3 linked regions of the Homo sapiens genome follow. The protein of the gene in region 3 purifies or fractionates together with the protein of the main gene of each other region. This does not show direct contact. Each region holds a gene or a part of one and is shown on either strand. Other genes may lie near its edges.

What was found.
Region 1: the proteins of SYT3 (region 3) and MYH7 purify together in Homo sapiens (affinity purification with mass spectrometry; 2 studies listed by BioGRID and IntAct, with this or other methods). This does not show direct contact.
Region 2: the proteins of SYT3 (region 3) and MYH4 purify together in Homo sapiens (affinity purification with mass spectrometry; 2 studies listed by BioGRID and IntAct, with this or other methods). This does not show direct contact.

The regions. Positions count from the first base shown.
Region 1 is NC_000014.9:23,425,661-23,432,660, reverse strand, and holds part of MYH7 (myosin-7), read left to right. Parts: coding exon 1-22; intron 23-154; coding exon 155-182; intron 183-791; coding exon 792-900; intron 901-983; coding exon 984-1,076; intron 1,077-1,179; coding exon 1,180-1,243; intron 1,244-1,661; coding exon 1,662-1,760; intron 1,761-1,997; coding exon 1,998-2,101; intron 2,102-2,747; coding exon 2,748-2,886; intron 2,887-3,313; coding exon 3,314-3,432; intron 3,433-3,556; coding exon 3,557-3,706; intron 3,707-3,990; coding exon 3,991-4,161; intron 4,162-4,766; coding exon 4,767-5,076; intron 5,077-5,353; coding exon 5,354-5,421; intron 5,422-5,796; coding exon 5,797-5,884; intron 5,885-6,579; coding exon 6,580-6,697; intron 6,698-6,842; coding exon 6,843-6,966; intron 6,967-7,000. UniProt on the Homo sapiens protein: Myosins are actin-based motor molecules with ATPase activity essential for muscle contraction. Forms regular bipolar thick filaments that, together with actin thin filaments, constitute the fundamental contractile unit of skeletal and cardiac muscle.
Region 2 is NC_000017.11:10,442,790-10,445,559, reverse strand, and holds the end of MYH4 (myosin-4), read left to right. Parts: intron 1-197; coding exon 198-323; intron 324-413; coding exon 414-584; intron 585-660; coding exon 661-765; intron 766-860; coding exon 861-956; intron 957-2,032; coding exon 2,033-2,185; 3' UTR 2,186-2,270; downstream 2,271-2,770. UniProt on the Homo sapiens protein: Muscle contraction.
Region 3 is NC_000019.10:50,622,768-50,629,917, reverse strand, and holds part of SYT3 (synaptotagmin-3), read left to right. Parts: coding exon 1-134; intron 135-405; coding exon 406-624; intron 625-3,900; coding exon 3,901-4,021; intron 4,022-4,353; coding exon 4,354-4,525; intron 4,526-4,623; coding exon 4,624-4,756; intron 4,757-7,150. UniProt on the Homo sapiens protein: Ca(2+) sensor involved in Ca(2+)-dependent exocytosis of secretory vesicles through Ca(2+) and phospholipid binding to the C2 domain.

The DNA of each region.
Region 1 (7,000 bases), on a different chromosome or scaffold from region 3:
GCCTATCAGTACATGCTGACAGGTGAGAGGCCCTGGAAGGGTCTTCCTGAAGGGAACTGGGATAGGCCGGGAGGGAGAGGGAGAAGGAAGGGAGAAGCCCCACGAGAGCATCCTGTGCAGCTCCTGACCTTTCCTCCCCACCCTCTCCCCACAGACAGAGAAAACCAGTCCATCCTGATCACGTGAGTGTAGCTGCTACTGTATTCCCTTTCAGAATCTCCCTGATCCCAGCCTCCAGCCCCATCAGGTGTCCCAGGCCCCGAGGCATAGACTCAGCCTCTTTCCCCCCAACCTCGTGCCCATCTCCTTCTTCTCTGACCATTACCCTGACCCCTCTCTTTGCTCTCCCTCTTCCTTTCTGCTTTCCATCCCCTTCATGTTTTTCCTCTCCCACCTCCTTCACCCACTCTCCAACTCATCACGCGTTTATCCAGAAGCTCATTATCGCCATGTCTTCACCTCTGCATTTTCTTTCCCTTCAGAAACATTTCCCATTCTTCCAGCCCTACCAACTTTTCCCAAAACAGCCCAGGCCCATCTCCCCTGTTTACTTTGCCCAGCCAAGCACAGGCTCAGCCTGCCCAAACCAGTGCCTTCTGGTGGCATCCTTCCTGGTGCCAGCCCTGACCTCTGTGCATCAGAAGACAGTTGTGGATTTTGGGTGTAGATAACCTGGCAGCTTCTTGCCCAGGGCTCCTACTCTCGGGTAGGCCCAGGCATTCTCTCCTGATTTGAGGCTTGCTGGTCTCCAGTAGTATTGTTCACTGCCCAATAAGCCCCTGTCTTCACAGCGGAGAATCCGGAGCAGGGAAGACAGTCAACACCAAGAGGGTCATCCAGTACTTTGCTGTTATTGCAGCCATTGGGGACCGCAGCAAGAAGGACCAGAGCCCGGGCAAGGTAGGCCTGCTGCCCTCCAAGGTCCTGTACCGCAGAAAGGGAGGGAGAAGAGCTCTCACCTGCCTCCTTCTTGGCCTCTGCAGGGCACCCTGGAGGACCAGATCATCCAGGCCAACCCTGCTCTGGAGGCCTTTGGCAATGCCAAGACCGTCCGGAACGACAACTCCTCCCGCTTCGTGAGTGGTCCCTGACCTTGGCCTTGGGACTTGGACTGGTGGAGGAATGGTCTCAGATATGAGCCTTCCCCCAACTCATCACCACTCTCTTCCATCTCTCCAGGGGAAATTCATTCGAATTCATTTTGGGGCAACAGGAAAGTTGGCATCTGCAGACATAGAGACCTGTGAGTGCCATGAATCTGCTAGGCTCAGCCTAAGCTCACCCTTGCTCTAGACCATCTGGTCTTGACCTCTCTCTCTCTCCCCTCCCTCCCTCTGTTTTTCTCCTCTTTAAGTCTCTGTCTGTAGGTGTCTCTGTCTTCAGGTCTACATATCTGTCTCTCTCTGAGACTTCCTCTGCATCTTTCTCCATTTCTGTCTCTGCATGGCTAGGTGTCTTTCTCTGGGATTTCTCTCTGAGACTATTTCTCTCCTTCTGGGTCTCTGTTTCCATCTCTCTGTGTGATCTCTTTGTGTCTGTCCAACTAGTCTCTCTGGCTCTTCCCTTCCCTCTGCCTTTTGCTTGCTACATTTATCATTAATTTTCCTTGTGCCCAAACCCTAACTTTTCTTTCTCTCCTTCTTCTCCCCACCTGTTCACAGATCTTCTGGAAAAATCCAGAGTTATTTTCCAGCTGAAAGCAGAGAGAGATTATCACATTTTCTACCAAATCCTGTCTAACAAAAAGCCTGAGCTGCTGGGTGAGTCAGAGCCACCGACTGAGACCAACTATCTCCATGGCAACCTGGTCCCCTCTGCTTGTGGCTGGACTCAGCTGGCATGCCCTGGGTTTCATGGCACTGCTGGATTCAATTCAGTGGGATGTGGGGCCAAGCCAAGCCCTGTCCTGTGCTCTTCCTCAGGCCATGTGCTGTGGCGAGCAGCCTCCATGAGAGCCGGGGGCTTGTGTCCCACCCTAACCATGTTTTTTCCCCTAGACATGCTGCTGATCACCAACAACCCCTACGATTATGCATTCATCTCCCAAGGAGAGACCACCGTGGCCTCCATTGATGACGCTGAGGAGCTCATGGCCACTGATGTGAGTGTGTGAGGACCCAGCCAGGGGGTGGGAGGATTGGCAGTGAGGGGCAAACAGGGGTCCAAAAGCAGAGCTAAGACGCTGGCCATTGGTTGTTTAAAGTGGTATGGACCTCCTGAGAGCCAGAATGTGCCCTGTGATCAGGGTGTACTGGGGAATGGATGAGGTGAGACAGGACTGGCCAGTATCTGGTGTTCTATCAAACCAGGAAGAGCTGAAAGCCATGAGACAGAGAGACACACAAGCCAAGAAACAAGCATCACCGAGGGAGCAGGACGAGGAGGGAAGGCCATGCAGACGGCATGGGGCTGGAGGGGCTGTTAGGTGAACAGATGCAGACAGGTATGGAAGGCCAGGCAGGAAGCAAGTGTAGGGCCAGGAAGCATAAGTGGGTAACTCAGAAAAGCTGTGGCCACTGACACTGGGGCTGCGGCCAACTGACGTCTGCTCTGCTCTTGCATCTTACATCCTTTGTTTTGGAGTTCCCTGCATCTTACATCCTTTGTTTTGGAGCTCCCCACTGGGTATGGGAGTCTCAGAACCCACAGGGATTAAGGAGACAAGTTTTCTCTCCAACTTACAAGGGATCTCACTTACCCATCATACTTCTTTTTCTGGGGTCCGCCAATATGGGGCCTCCCTACAGAACGCTTTTGATGTGCTGGGCTTCACTTCAGAGGAGAAAAACTCCATGTATAAGCTGACAGGCGCCATCATGCACTTTGGAAACATGAAGTTCAAGCTGAAGCAGCGGGAGGAGCAGGCGGAGCCAGACGGCACTGAAGGTGGGAGGCAGGGATTCTTGGGGGCAGCTGTCAAGTCATGGAGGGCCATGTCTGCTCAGCAGTCATCTCTCTTCTCTTTTTTCTTTTTTTTTTTTTTTTGAGATGGAGTCTTGCTCTGTTGCCCAGGCTGGAGCGCAGTGGCACGATCTTGGCTCACTGCCACCTCCACATCCTGGGTTCAAGTGATTCTCCTGCCTCAGCCTCCCGAGTAGCTGGAATTACAGGCATGCACCACCATGCCTGGCTAATTTTTGTATTTTTAGTAGAGATGGGGTTTCATCATGTTGGCCAGGTTGGTCTCAAACTCCTGACCTCAAGTGATCCGCCTGCCTTGGCCTCCCAAAGTGCTGGGATTACAGGCATGAACCACCACACCTGGCCAGCAGTCATCTCTTTACCAACTTTGCTACTTGCCTTTTCCTTCCAGAGGCTGACAAGTCTGCCTACCTCATGGGGCTGAACTCAGCCGACCTGCTCAAGGGGCTGTGCCACCCTCGGGTGAAAGTGGGCAATGAGTACGTCACCAAGGGGCAGAATGTCCAGCAGGTGGGTCCATCTTCAGATGATAATGGGTGGGCAGGGTAGGGAGACTGGCATGGTGGGATGAGAGTTTTCAAGTTCACTCTTCCCAACAACCCTGCTCAATATGGGTCTCTCCTCCACCTTGCAGGTGATATATGCCACTGGGGCACTGGCCAAGGCAGTGTATGAGAGGATGTTCAACTGGATGGTGACGCGCATCAATGCCACCCTGGAGACCAAGCAGCCACGCCAGTACTTCATAGGAGTCCTGGACATCGCTGGCTTCGAGATCTTCGATGTGAGTTGGGACCCCTGGGAGTGGGAGAACAATCACTCACTCGCTCCCACATTCAACAGCTATTTGCTTAGAGCCAGCTGTGGACCAGACATGGGAAGGCAGTGGGGACTGTGTGGTGACAGAGGCAGTCATTTTCTCTGTCTTCAGGGGAAGCCCTCCTTCACTGCCTTGACATGGAGGGGACCAGCCACGCCCTGCTGGGCTCAGGCACAGTGGACGGGCACAGCCCCAATGGCCACTCACACCCACTTTCTGACTGCTCCCACCCCTCATGCCCCCTGCAGTTCAACAGCTTTGAGCAGCTCTGCATCAACTTCACCAACGAGAAGCTGCAGCAGTTCTTCAACCACCACATGTTTGTGCTGGAGCAGGAGGAGTACAAGAAGGAGGGCATCGAGTGGACATTCATTGACTTTGGCATGGACCTGCAGGCCTGCATTGACCTCATCGAGAAGGTGCCTCTTTGGCCTTACCACCTGAATTCTCCCTGCACACCCAACAAGAACACCATAGACAAAATAGCAGCCCCTCTCCCTTCTGGGGAATATAAAAATAGAAGGGGCTGAAGGATCCGAGCCCTTGGTTCCAGAGCCTATGTTGTGCTGAGCACCCAGGACAGGGTGGCACCAGGGACAGCTGATTTCCCAGGGGCTTGAAAGTGGACACATGGAGGATGGGCACCTGCATGATGACCTCCCACACCTGCATGTTTATTGGGCCTGGTTTATGCATCCAAGGATCAGGAAGTGTGAGGGTGGTGTAGGGGATCATAAGAGTGCACCTATTTTCAACCCTAGCATCTCAGGCATCTGGGTCGTGGAGTGGTGTGTACAGCATCGATAGAATCCATATTCCCAGACTTTCACAAAGGTCCTTCTGTCATCAGACAAAATCCTCCACCTTGAACCGGTTCCAGTCAGTAGATAACTGTACTCAGAGCTGAGCCTACTACCTTAACACCCAACATGGCACCTCCACGAGCAAGTATATTGACCATAGAGCAGAATCCATGTCCACCTGTGTGAAGGACACTCAGTGATGCTCTCTCCTGCTTCCTCAGCCCATGGGCATCATGTCCATCCTGGAAGAGGAGTGCATGTTCCCCAAGGCCACCGACATGACCTTCAAGGCCAAGCTGTTTGACAACCACCTGGGCAAATCCGCCAACTTCCAGAAGCCACGCAATATCAAGGGGAAGCCTGAAGCCCACTTCTCCCTGATCCACTATGCCGGCATCGTGGACTACAACATCATTGGCTGGCTGCAGAAGAACAAGGATCCTCTCAATGAGACTGTCGTGGGCTTGTATCAGAAGTCTTCCCTCAAGCTGCTCAGCACCCTGTTTGCCAACTATGCTGGGGCTGATGCGCGTAAGTAGGGACTGAGGCTCCCGGTACAGAGGAGCAGGGATTCTGCCAAGGTTCTGAGCCAGGTCAATTGCTACACCCCACCACTTCAATGTCAGGTTGTACCCCAAGGTTTACAGACTCAGTGGGATGGAACTGGGTGAAGAAACTGAGGCAGCCACATTGAAGGCCCTCACCCAGGGGCCAAATGCCAGCAAGGATGTAAAGAGGGGCTGTGATTCTTTACTCACACCCTACCTCCCCACACTGATGCTTCTTTTGTTGACTCTCCTTCCTGCAGCTATTGAGAAGGGCAAAGGCAAGGCCAAGAAAGGCTCGTCCTTTCAGACTGTGTCAGCTCTGCACAGGGTGAGTGGGACACAGCCCCAGCCAACTTGGCTCCCCATCTGCCCAACCCCACCCAGCCCCACCCTTCCCTGCCTTGTTCATCCCCTACTCCTCCCGTTCCCTGTCTCCTTGGTGCATTCGGGACCATTTTCACTCTGTCTTCTCTTCCCGTCATCTCCTGGCCTCTTCACTTATTTACTTCCCATCTCCCTTCTCTCCTCTTTCCCTTCTGTCTCCCACCCTCTCTCCTTATCCCTGTCTGCCCCCAGGGCCCCTTCATCTCTGTGACTTCTCGAATTCTCTCCATCTCTCTTTTCCTTCCTTCTTCTCCTCTCTTCTTCCTGCATCTCTTTCTGGCATTTTCTTTACTTTTCTCTATTGCATTTTTGGCCACAGGAAAATCTGAACAAGCTGATGACCAACTTGCGCTCCACCCATCCCCACTTTGTACGTTGTATCATCCCTAATGAGACAAAGTCTCCAGGTGAGGCCACAAACTCAGGCCAACCCACTGCTGGGCATACACCGCCCTGGGAACAGGACCTCCTAGGACATCTCCCTACCTACCACCACAGTGGTTTCCAAACCACATTCTTCTCCTCCCATCCCGCATGAGGCCTCCCAGGGTACCTCCCTCTCAGCGCTACCTTGCACTTGCAGTGTGTAATGAGGGTGATGTGTAAGGCACTCTGATGGACATTACCTCATCAGTGGCCCTACAACCCCTTGGATAGCTGGTTGTCCAAGACAGAATCTTAGTTCAACTTTAAATTTACCTGCAGAACCACTTAATCCCCCAATGAGACATATTCAAATTGTTAATCCATTTTTGGCTAATTAGGAGACAGAGGCTCAGGGACCTGGGTTCAAGACCTGGCTCTGTTCTTGATCAGCTTAGTGAACTTGGGCCAGTCCCATAACCCCTCTGGGCTTAATTTACTCATCTAGAACATTGGATATATCTGTTCTGGCTACCACCTATGATAATAGGTGTGAATCATATAAAAAAGGAATGTGAAAGCCTTTTAGTTAAAAATGTGGCTAGAAGAAAATGAAACAAATGATTATTACTAACTGACTTGCTAAGATTACAAGCTAATCAGTGACAAAGCCAGGATCAGAACCCAGAACTTCAGTCCAGTGTTCTCACAGACTCCTCCTACTTCCTTCTTGCCACAGGGGTGATGGACAACCCCCTGGTCATGCACCAGCTGCGCTGCAATGGTGTGCTGGAGGGCATCCGCATCTGCAGGAAAGGCTTCCCCAACCGCATCCTCTACGGGGACTTCCGGCAGAGGTGGGTATGAGGGTGCACCAGAGCTCATAGAACAGGGGGAGCCAGGCTGCCCTGATGGGAATGGGATCTGCAGGTGACCCTGGAATTCTATGGGCAGAGCAGATCACTGCAGAGCATGGGTGACTCTGGACACTTCCCTCCTCAGGTATCGCATCCTGAACCCAGCGGCCATCCCTGAGGGACAGTTCATTGATAGCAGGAAGGGGGCAGAGAAGCTGCTCAGCTCCCTGGACATTGATCACAACCAGTACAAGTTTGGCCACACCAAGGTGAGGAAAGGAGACTAATTAATTAAAGGAAGAC
Region 2 (2,770 bases), on a different chromosome or scaffold from region 3:
ATTAAATTTAGAAGTTTGATTAAAGAGCTATATATAGAAAGGAGAAAAGGCATAAACTTAGAATTATCTTCTAATTTGGTTTTTATTCTAAACATTTCTTATGATCAATAATTTTTGCCTGTGTACACTAGGTAAAATGACAATGTGAGTTGTTATAAGTAAATGTGCTTCTCTTCTCTTTCATTAATTTGAAACAGAACACCAGCCTGATCAACACCAAGAAGAAGCTGGAAACAGACATTTCCCAAATCCAGGGAGAGATGGAGGACATCGTCCAGGAAGCCCGCAATGCAGAGGAGAAGGCCAAGAAGGCCATCACTGATGTAAGCAAGATGAGCATTTGTCTTACTGACACATGCATGCTGCCTGCTATCATCAGAATTCATTATTTTCAAAATTTATTTGCTAACTAGGCTGCCATGATGGCTGAGGAGCTGAAGAAGGAACAGGACACCAGCGCCCACCTGGAGCGGATGAAGAAGAACATGGAGCAGACCGTGAAGGATCTGCAGCTCCGTCTGGATGAGGCTGAGCAGCTGGCGCTGAAGGGTGGGAAGAAGCAGATCCAGAAACTGGAGGCCAGGGTAGGTCTCCACAACTTCACTCAATTCCTTGTGGCCAGTTACAGCCAAACTGGTAAACGTCTTTGTTCCCTTCCAGGTGAGAGAGCTTGAAAGTGAGGTGGAAAGTGAACAGAAGCACAATGTTGAGGCTGTCAAGGGTCTTCGCAAACATGAGAGAAGAGTGAAGGAACTCACTTACCAGGTGACCAGTGTTTTCATATCTTCCAGGCCTATAGTTTTCAAGAAAATCATGAGTTGTTTTAAAATAATGGCACCATCTACTTGCACCTCTTTCAGACTGAGGAGGACCGCAAGAATATTCTCAGGCTGCAGGACTTGGTGGACAAATTGCAAACCAAAGTCAAAGCTTACAAGAGACAAGCTGAAGAGGCTGTGAGTATCTCCACAGTGGAAATGAAAGGTTCAGATGCACATCCAGGTTTTTTGGGGCCTAAAGTTTATAGAATTTAGGGGGTTTTCTTTAAATTGGGAATACATAATTAGGTATGAACATGAATATTTAGAATGAGAAAAATGAACCATAAATTACTGGAGCCTTATAGATTTGAGTTTATTTCTTCTGAGACCTCTTTAAGCAATTTTCCAGACATGTTAACATACAAATGTTTCTTAGTTGCAATCCACTTCCCTCCCTATCTAGAACATTCTACAACCCCCAGCACTCATATGGACCTGTGCAAATGAGAGTATGAATTCTAAGCTTCATTTAACTTCATGATAAATCCATCTTGGGACTTTTTTTTTCAATTTGGCTGCAGTTATCTTTTTCATTCTGTTAATTCTGAAACCTTCCTTAGGGTTCTTGGCACCAAATGCCACTACTGCACCTATTTTTTAAAGTTTCTTTTTTAGAAACAAGATTGAATTCAGATCCCTGCTACTTTGTTCTTCCAGTTATCACTGCAGCCTCTTCAGTTTGCCAGAAAGAGAGTCAAGTGAGAGAGAGACTTGAGGAGGGTCATAAGCACATTCATTTACATAGGCGAGTTTGTGGGATGCCTTGCTCTCAAATAACTATGTTACTAAATAATAAAGCCTTTTTCTCTTCTTTTTTTTTTTTTCGAGGCAGAGTTTTGCTCTTGTTGCCCAGGCTGGAGTGCAATGGCACAATCTCAGCTCACTGCAATCTCTGCCTCCTGGGTCCAAGAGATTCTCCTGCCTCAGCCTCCTGAGTAGCTGGAATTACAGGCATCCACCACTACGCTGGGCTAATTTTAGTAAAGATGGGGGTTTCACCATGTTGGCCAGGCTGGTCTCGAATTCCTGACCTCAGGTGATCCACCCGCCTCAGTCTCCCAGAGTGCTGGGATTACAGGTGTGAGCCACCATGCCTGGACAACGGAGCCTTTTTCTTTCTCATTCATGAGGCAAATCCTGAAGTAACAAAAGCAATAACAATCAGGAAATGTCCAATTTTCTTGTTATCTCAAATGCATCTCTGTTCTCAGGAGGAACAATCCAATGTCAACCTTGCCAAGTTCCGCAAGCTCCAGCACGAGCTGGAGGAGGCCAAGGAACGGGCTGACATTGCTGAGTCCCAAGTCAACAAGCTGAGAGTGAAGAGTCGGGAGGTTCACACAAAAGTCATAAGTGAAGAGTAATTCATTCTAATGAAAGAAAATGTGACCAAAGAAATGCACGAAATGTGAAGTTCTTTGTCACTGTCCTGTATATCAAGGAAATAAAATCTTTAGATAATTTTGCATCTAAAAATACATTTGTCTCTTAATTATAAGCTCTTTAGTGCTATTAGAACTAATTCCTTTATTCAACATTTGTGGAGTTCCTAATATGTGCAATCAGAGATAATAACAAAAATGAATGTAGGCAGTGAACCCAACTTTAATGGAAGGTAAATGAAATAAGGTGCTCTGAGAAGACATGAAGGTGACAAACGCACTCTCAATTCCATTCAACCAATTTTACTGAGTATCAACTATATGTCTGGTACAGAAATGGACACGAAAGATGTGACAGTTATCCCTGTCTTTGAGAAGTTCAATCCAGTGTGGAAGACGGCAGTTCAAAAAGATATACGCTGTATGTATGTGCAACATACATACTCTGACATGAGTGTGAAAAACAAATGTGGCAATAACATAGAGTGAGCTGCTAACTTTGGAAATCCAGAAAGGCTTCTCAAAGGAGACTATGAGCTGATTCCTAAAAGAGGACCAGACAGTTAT
Region 3 (7,150 bases):
TCTATGGCTCGGACCAGCTGGTGGTGAGGATCCTGCAGGCCCTGGACCTCCCTGCCAAGGACTCCAACGGCTTCTCAGACCCCTACGTCAAGATCTACCTGCTGCCTGACCGCAAGAAAAAGTTTCAGACCAAGGTCCGGAGCAGCGGGCTGGACACCGGGTTCCCACAGAGAGGGAGCTAGGGCTCTGGACTCCCGGGTCTGAGGGAGGAGGGGCTGGGGGCCTGGACTCCCGGGTCTGAGGGAGGAGGGGCTGGGGGCCTGGACTCCCGGGTCTGAGGGAGGAGGGGCTGGGGGCCTGGACTCCTGGGTCTGAGGGAGGAGGGGCTGGGGGCTGGACTCCTGGATCCTGTGGAGGAGGGGCTTATGGGCACGGTGTCTGTCTCCTGTCGCCCACCACCACCAGGTGCACAGGAAGACCCTGAACCCCGTCTTCAATGAGACGTTTCAATTCTCGGTGCCCCTGGCCGAGCTGGCCCAACGCAAACTGCACTTCAGCGTCTATGACTTTGACCGCTTCTCGCGGCACGACCTCATCGGCCAGGTGGTGCTGGACAACCTCCTGGAGCTGGCCGAGCAGCCCCCTGACCGCCCGCTCTGGAGGGACATCGTGGAGGGCGGCTCGGTCAGTGGCCCTCTCCCCTGACCTTCCCCTTCCCAGGGCCCTGAGACCCCCCGGGTTGCAAGCCCCCTGCCCTCAGAGTTCATAACTTCCTCACTTCTTGTCCCCACATTTTTCTGTTAAAATGTATCACACTGGGGAAGACTGCAAACTTACAGGCAAGAATAGAGAATGAGCCGGGCGCGGTAGCTCATGCCTATAATCCCAGCACTTTGGGAGGCCAGGTGGGCAGATCACTTGAGGTTGGGAGTTCGAGACCAGCCTGGCCAACATGGAGAAACCCCATCTCTACTAAAAATACAAAAATTAGCCGGGCATGGTGGCACATGCCTGTAATCCCAGCTACTTAGGAGGATGAGGCAGGAGAATCGCTTGCACCAGGAAGTGGAGGTTGTGGTGAGCAGAGATCATGCCATTGCACTCCAGCGTAGGCAACAAGAGCGAAACTCCGTCTCAAAAAAAAAAAAAAAAGAACAGATAATGATACAGTGGACACCATTCCTCTCCTCAACATCGCCAAATGTTAGCATCAGGTCTGGATCCGATTTTCCAACCTCTCACCCGCTTTGCCATAGGATGCCTTCCTGCCTCAACCCCATGACTTCTCCCCTCTCACCCCAGACTTCTTACCTTCCTAACTTCCTGACTTTCCAATGACTGGACTTCTGGAAGCCCCAGTCCCTCTCTAATCTCTGAACTTCTGAAAGCCCCAATCCCTCTCTAATCTCTGAACTTCTGAATTTTCCCAACCCCTGACATTGGAACTCTTTCATATTCTGACCCTCTGTTTTTTCATGGTCCCTGCCCGAATGCTGATAGCTTGATCCCCCAGGCCTCAGCCATCCTGGGATCCCCAATATGCAGACACTCCTCAGTTCTCCCAGCATCCAGATTATAGGGCCCAATGGCTTCTTCCTTATTCCTTGCGACCCCTGCCCTCTGGTATCTCATTCTCCCTGTACCTCCAATCCCTCCCCAGCCCCATTCTTAGGTACTTCTTGTGTGTGTGTCCTGAGCTCTTCTGCCCCACCAAATCTCAGATCCTCAACTCTACAGCGCCCCCGCTCCAACCTAATTTGTGGATTATCCAACATTCCAGTTCTCTGCCAATCTGGGGTAGCTGTGTGTGTGTTGTGGGGAGGGCGGCCTTCATATCAGGAGAGGACTAGACCTCCTCAAGGTTCTTTCCTTTTCTGAGCCTCAGTTTCCCCATCTGTTCAATGACAGATGTCCAGTTGAGCTGGGTGCCAGGTAGGCTTTTTGGGTAGCTCTTTGGGTAGGCTTCTTCATGGGGCCCTCCCCAGCCTGCCTGCTTGGCCCCCAAGCCCAGCCTTTGAGATTGAAGTGCCCAGTTCCAAGGTCCCAGGGCCCCTGTGTATTCCACCAGCTCCTACTCCCAGTCATCACCCATGGCAGCCCCATGCCAGGGCCTTCTCTCTGTATCCATGCTGGCCTAATTCTTGTGCTCACCCTTCTCATTTTCTCTCTCCATCATCATCACTTGAGGTTTTCCTCACTCATTCCATTGATTCATACATTCTCTCTCTCTCATTTTTTTTTTTTTTTTTTTGAGACAGAGTCTCTCTCTGTCACCCAGGCTGGAGTACAGTGGCGCAATCTCAGCTCACTGCAACCTCCACCTCCCGGGTTCAAGTGATTGTGATTCTCATGCTTCAGTCACCCAAGTAGCTGGGATTACAGGCACCTGCCACCATGCCCGGCTAATTTTTGTATTTTTAGTAGAGACAGGGTTTCGCCATGCTGGCCAGGCTGGTCTCGAACTCCTGAGCTCAGGTTAACCGCCCACCTCAGCCTCCCAAAGTGCTGGGATTACAGGCATCAGCCACTGCACCCAGCCTTCATTCATTTCTTCAACCACTGTTTTTTTCAGGAGCAGGGCCTGGGGACCCCAGGCAGCCCTCGGCAGCTCCAGGTCTAGATGGTCGGGCCTTGTGTCAGGGGCCAGGGTTATGGGGAGGCACAGGAGGAGCCTCTGCAGGGCTGTGGGGGATCTGGGAGCTTGTGGAACGAGGGGAGGCTCAAAGGCCAAGGAGAGATAGAGGGAAGAGTGTTCTGGCAGAGGGACAGCCTGGGCAGATGCCCTGAGGGGAATGAGTAGGGAGTCCTGGGCACAGTTGGGAGGCCGCAGGGCTAGGCCAGGTTGGTCAAAGCTCCCAGCTAGCTCCAGCGTGGCTCCAGCCTGTGTGTCAGGGTTGGGGGCAGTCCTGGAAACTTCGGTGGAGGTTGATGAATCTCCTGCCCTCTCTCAGGCTGGTTTATGTGTGTGTGTCTGCTTGGTCTTTGTCCCACTCTGTCTGAGTCAGCCTCTCTCTCTCTCTCTCTCTTTCTCTTGGTGCAGGGAGTAGGGTATCTGAGTCTAGGTTTCTCTCTCGCTCTCTGGTCTCTGCCCCTCCACTCTAATTCTAGGTAACTATCACTCTCTCTGGGTCTTTATGCACCCCCAACCCACTGTCTCTGTCCCTCTCTCTCTCTGGGCCTCTGTCTCTCTCTGAGTCTCTCTCTATATATATCTCTCTCTCTTTCTCTCTCTGGGTCTCTGTACCCCCTGTCTCTGGGCTTCTGTCTCTCTCTGGGTCTCTATCTCTCTGTCTCTGGGTCTCTGTCCCCCTCTCTGTCTGGGTCTCTGCCCCTTTCTCTCTCTGGGTCTGTCCTCCTCTCTCTGGGTCTCTGTCCCCCTCTCTTTCTGGGCCTCTGTCCTCCTCTCTCTCTGGGCTTCTGTCCTCCTCTCTCTCTGGGTCTCTGTCCTCCTCTCTGGGTCTCTGTCCCCCCCCCTCTCTCTCTGGGCCTCTGTCCCCCTCTCTCTCTGGGTCTCTGTCTCCCTCTCTTTCTGGGTCTCTGTCTCCCTCTCTCTGGGTCTCTCTCTGTGTCTGTCTCTGGGCCTCTGTCCCTCTGACTTGAGAACTTTGCCTGTGGGTCTGTCTTTCCAGCTGTATCCCTCCGTGTTTTGGCTTCTGTCTCAGTCTATTTCTCTTTGTGTTTTCTCTCTCTCTCACCTTCTCTGTCTCTCCCCTCCTCTCTCTCTCCCCTCACTCATGCTTCTTCCAATCTTTCCTGCAGAACAAATAAGCTTTGATGGTCATGGGCAGCTGTGGCCAGGGAATTACTGGGCCTTGTCCCAAGAGTCAGATTGCTAAGTGGATGGGAAGCCTGAGCCCTGGATGTCAGGGTGTAAAGCAGGAGGCTCCGACCGGAGAGAAAATCAGGGAGAGTTGAAGAGGGGCTGAGGCAAGATATCGCTGACCTTTTCCCCAACTGCAGGAAAAAGCAGATCTTGGGGAGCTCAACTTCTCACTCTGCTACCTCCCCACGGCCGGGCGCCTCACCGTGACCATCATCAAAGCCTCTAACCTCAAAGCGATGGACCTCACTGGCTTCTCAGGTGAGGGTCCTGGGTCTGAGGGAGGAGGGCTGGGGGCCTGGACTCCTGGGTCTGAGGGAGGAGGGGCCAGGGGCCTGGACTCCTGGGTCTGAGGGAGGAGGAGCTGGGGATCTGGACTCCTGGGTCTGAGGGAGGAGGGGCCAGGGGCCTGGACTCCTGGGTCGGAGAGAGGAGGACCTGGGGTCTGGACTCTTGGGCCTGAGGAAGGAGGGACTGGGGGCCTGGGGCCCCGGACCTCTGGGTCTGAGGGAGGAGGGGCTCGGGGCCTGGGGTCCTGGACCCCTAGGTCTGAGGGAGTGAGTCTCTGTTCCTTACTTCATTGCTGTTCCCAGACCCCTACGTGAAGGCCTCCCTGATCAGCGAGGGGCGGCGTCTGAAGAAGCGGAAAACCTCCATCAAGAAGAACACGCTGAACCCCACCTATAATGAGGCGCTGGTGTTCGACGTGGCCCCCGAGAGCGTGGAGAACGTGGGGCTCAGCATCGCCGTGGTAGACTACGACTGGTGAGGGGCGCGGCCCGGGCGGGGGTCAGGCAGGAGGGCTGGGGTGGGGACAGGCCCTCCCACCACCCTCCACGGTCCTCACTGACCCCAACCCCCAGCATCGGGCACAACGAGGTGATCGGCGTGTGCCGTGTGGGCCCCGACGCTGCCGACCCGCACGGCCGCGAGCACTGGGCAGAGATGCTGGCCAATCCCCGCAAGCCCGTGGAGCACTGGCATCAGCTAGTGGAGGTGAGTAGGGGTCCCACACCGACCCCTGACAAGCACCCGTGCACCCTCGGCCCCTTCATCCATGCAACGAACGCCCTGCATGTTCGTGAGTCGCAGAGCCAGGCGTCCTAGGTTTCAATCCCTGCTGTGCCAACTTTAGCTGTGCGGCTTAGAGCCAGTTACCCAAGCGCTCTGTGCCTCAATTTACCCACTAGGAAATGGGACTGTTGATAGCATCTTCTGTTAGGATAGAGGTGAGATGTGCTGAGTTAAACGTTCTGTAGGTGGTCGCTGCTGTTGTTACCCATGAGGCTAAGTTGAAAATAGAGGGGGCTGGGCGTGGTGGCTCACGCCTGTAATCCCAGCACTTTGGGAGGCCGAGGAGGGTGGATCACCTGAGGTCAGGAGTTTGAGACCAGCCTGACCAACATGGAGAAACCCTGTCTCTACTAAAAATACAAAATTAGCTGGGCGTGGTGGCGCACGCCTGTAATCCCAGCTACTTGGGAGGCTGAGGCAGGAGAATCGCTTGAACCTGGGAGGCAGAGGTTGCGGTGAGCTGAGGTGGCGCCATTGCACTCCAGCCTGGGCGACAGAGCAAGACTCTGTCTCAAAAAAAAAAAAAAAAGTCATTTAAGATTATCGCTTGATCAGGAGAAATAATCAAACATGGCCATTCTCTCAATAGAAAACAAGAGGAGCAAAGAAGTAGCTTTAGAAAGTGTTATTGGCAGATTTGCCTCCATTAAAAGCCAAGAAAGTCAAATTATTCAAATTCTGTCTAGGGTATATATGAAAGATTTAAATGTAAAATAATGTTGTGAATTTCAACACACTTACTTCATTTTTCAGTATTTTTCAACTAGTTTAGCATTCCAGGAAAAATAAATTTAGAAAAAATATATAAAAACTTGGGCAGGGCACAGTGGCTCATGCCTGAAATCCCAGCACAGGCCTTGGGAGGCCAAGGTGGGTGGATCACTTGAGCCTGGGAGTTTAAGACTAGCCTGAGCAACATGGGGAGAGCCTGTCTCTACAAAAATAATTTAGGAATTAGCTAGGCATGGTAGTGTGTGCTTATAGTCCCTGCTACTCAGGAGGCTGAGGCAGGAGGATCTCTTGAGCCCAGGAGTTTGTTACTGCAGTGAGCTATGATCTCACCACCACACTCCAGCCTGGGCAATGGAGCAGGAACCCCTCTCCTTAAAAAAAAAAAAAAAGCAAGTATATGAGGGCACATACATTTCCTTTGAAATAGCAGTCTGATGTGGCATGAGACTGGCCTTTTTTAAAAATTTGATATTTTCTTCATCATTGATTTTTTTGCATTAATTTTGATTTTTTTTAAAATCTTGCATTATTATTATTATTGTTATTATTGAGACAGAGTCTCACTCTGTCACCCAGGCTGGAGTGCAGTGTTGCAGTCTTGGCTCACTGCAACCTCCCCCTCCCTGAGTACAAGTGATTCTCCTGCTTCAGCCTCCCAAGTAGCTGGGACTACAGGCGTGTGCCACCTCACCCTGCTAATTTTTTTTTTTTTTTTTTTTTTTTTTTTTTTTTTTTTTTGTAGAGACAGGGTTTTGCCATGTTGTCCAGGCTGGTCTCAACTTCCCACCTCAAGTGATCCACCCACCTTGGGCTCCCAAAGTGCTGGGATTATAGGCGTGAGCCACCGCGCCTGGCCAATATTGCATGAAATATTCTTTATCTTGATTGCTGCATTTGGGGCACACATTTACATTTAGTACTGGGTGAAACTTTCACCACATCACCAGATTTAGTCTGGCCCTGCTGTGGGCTTTTTTCCAGTGATCATGAGGGACCCGACACCTGGGCACAGAACTCAGATTTGAGATTGGAAAAGACGGGGACTCTACTAAGGTGGATAGGATGGAGGCTACTCCCTCCTCCTGTCATTCACTCATTCATCCGTTCATTAATTCATCCCACCAACCTTCCCAGGAGTTTCTGGTGAGCCACTGCCCATGTTGGGCAACGCTGGTGGCACAGAGTCTAGGCCGAGTCCTGACACTGCCCATGAATTTCAGCCCCTCATGCTCCCTGTGGCCCCAGAAGATCCTTCTACACCCAGAGCTTCCCCTCCCCTTCCTTGCTCACAGCCCTCCCGTGGCTCCCCAGTGGCCCCAGGACAGAGTCTCAGCCCCTCTGATACCATGCAGGACTTGCCCCACTCATCCCTACAGCCTCATCTCTCCTCGCATTTGCAGAGACTCCTCTTTTTTGTGCCTCCATTTCCCCATCTGTAGAATGGAATTGTAATACCATCTGTCCGTCACTTCAGGGCCAAGTGAGAAAGCGCATCCTAAATAATGAAACAGGATTGACGTCTTCTCCTGTTGATGATTAGCATCTGTTTCAACTCTCTGTCTCTCACTCCCGAACCTTCTGCAC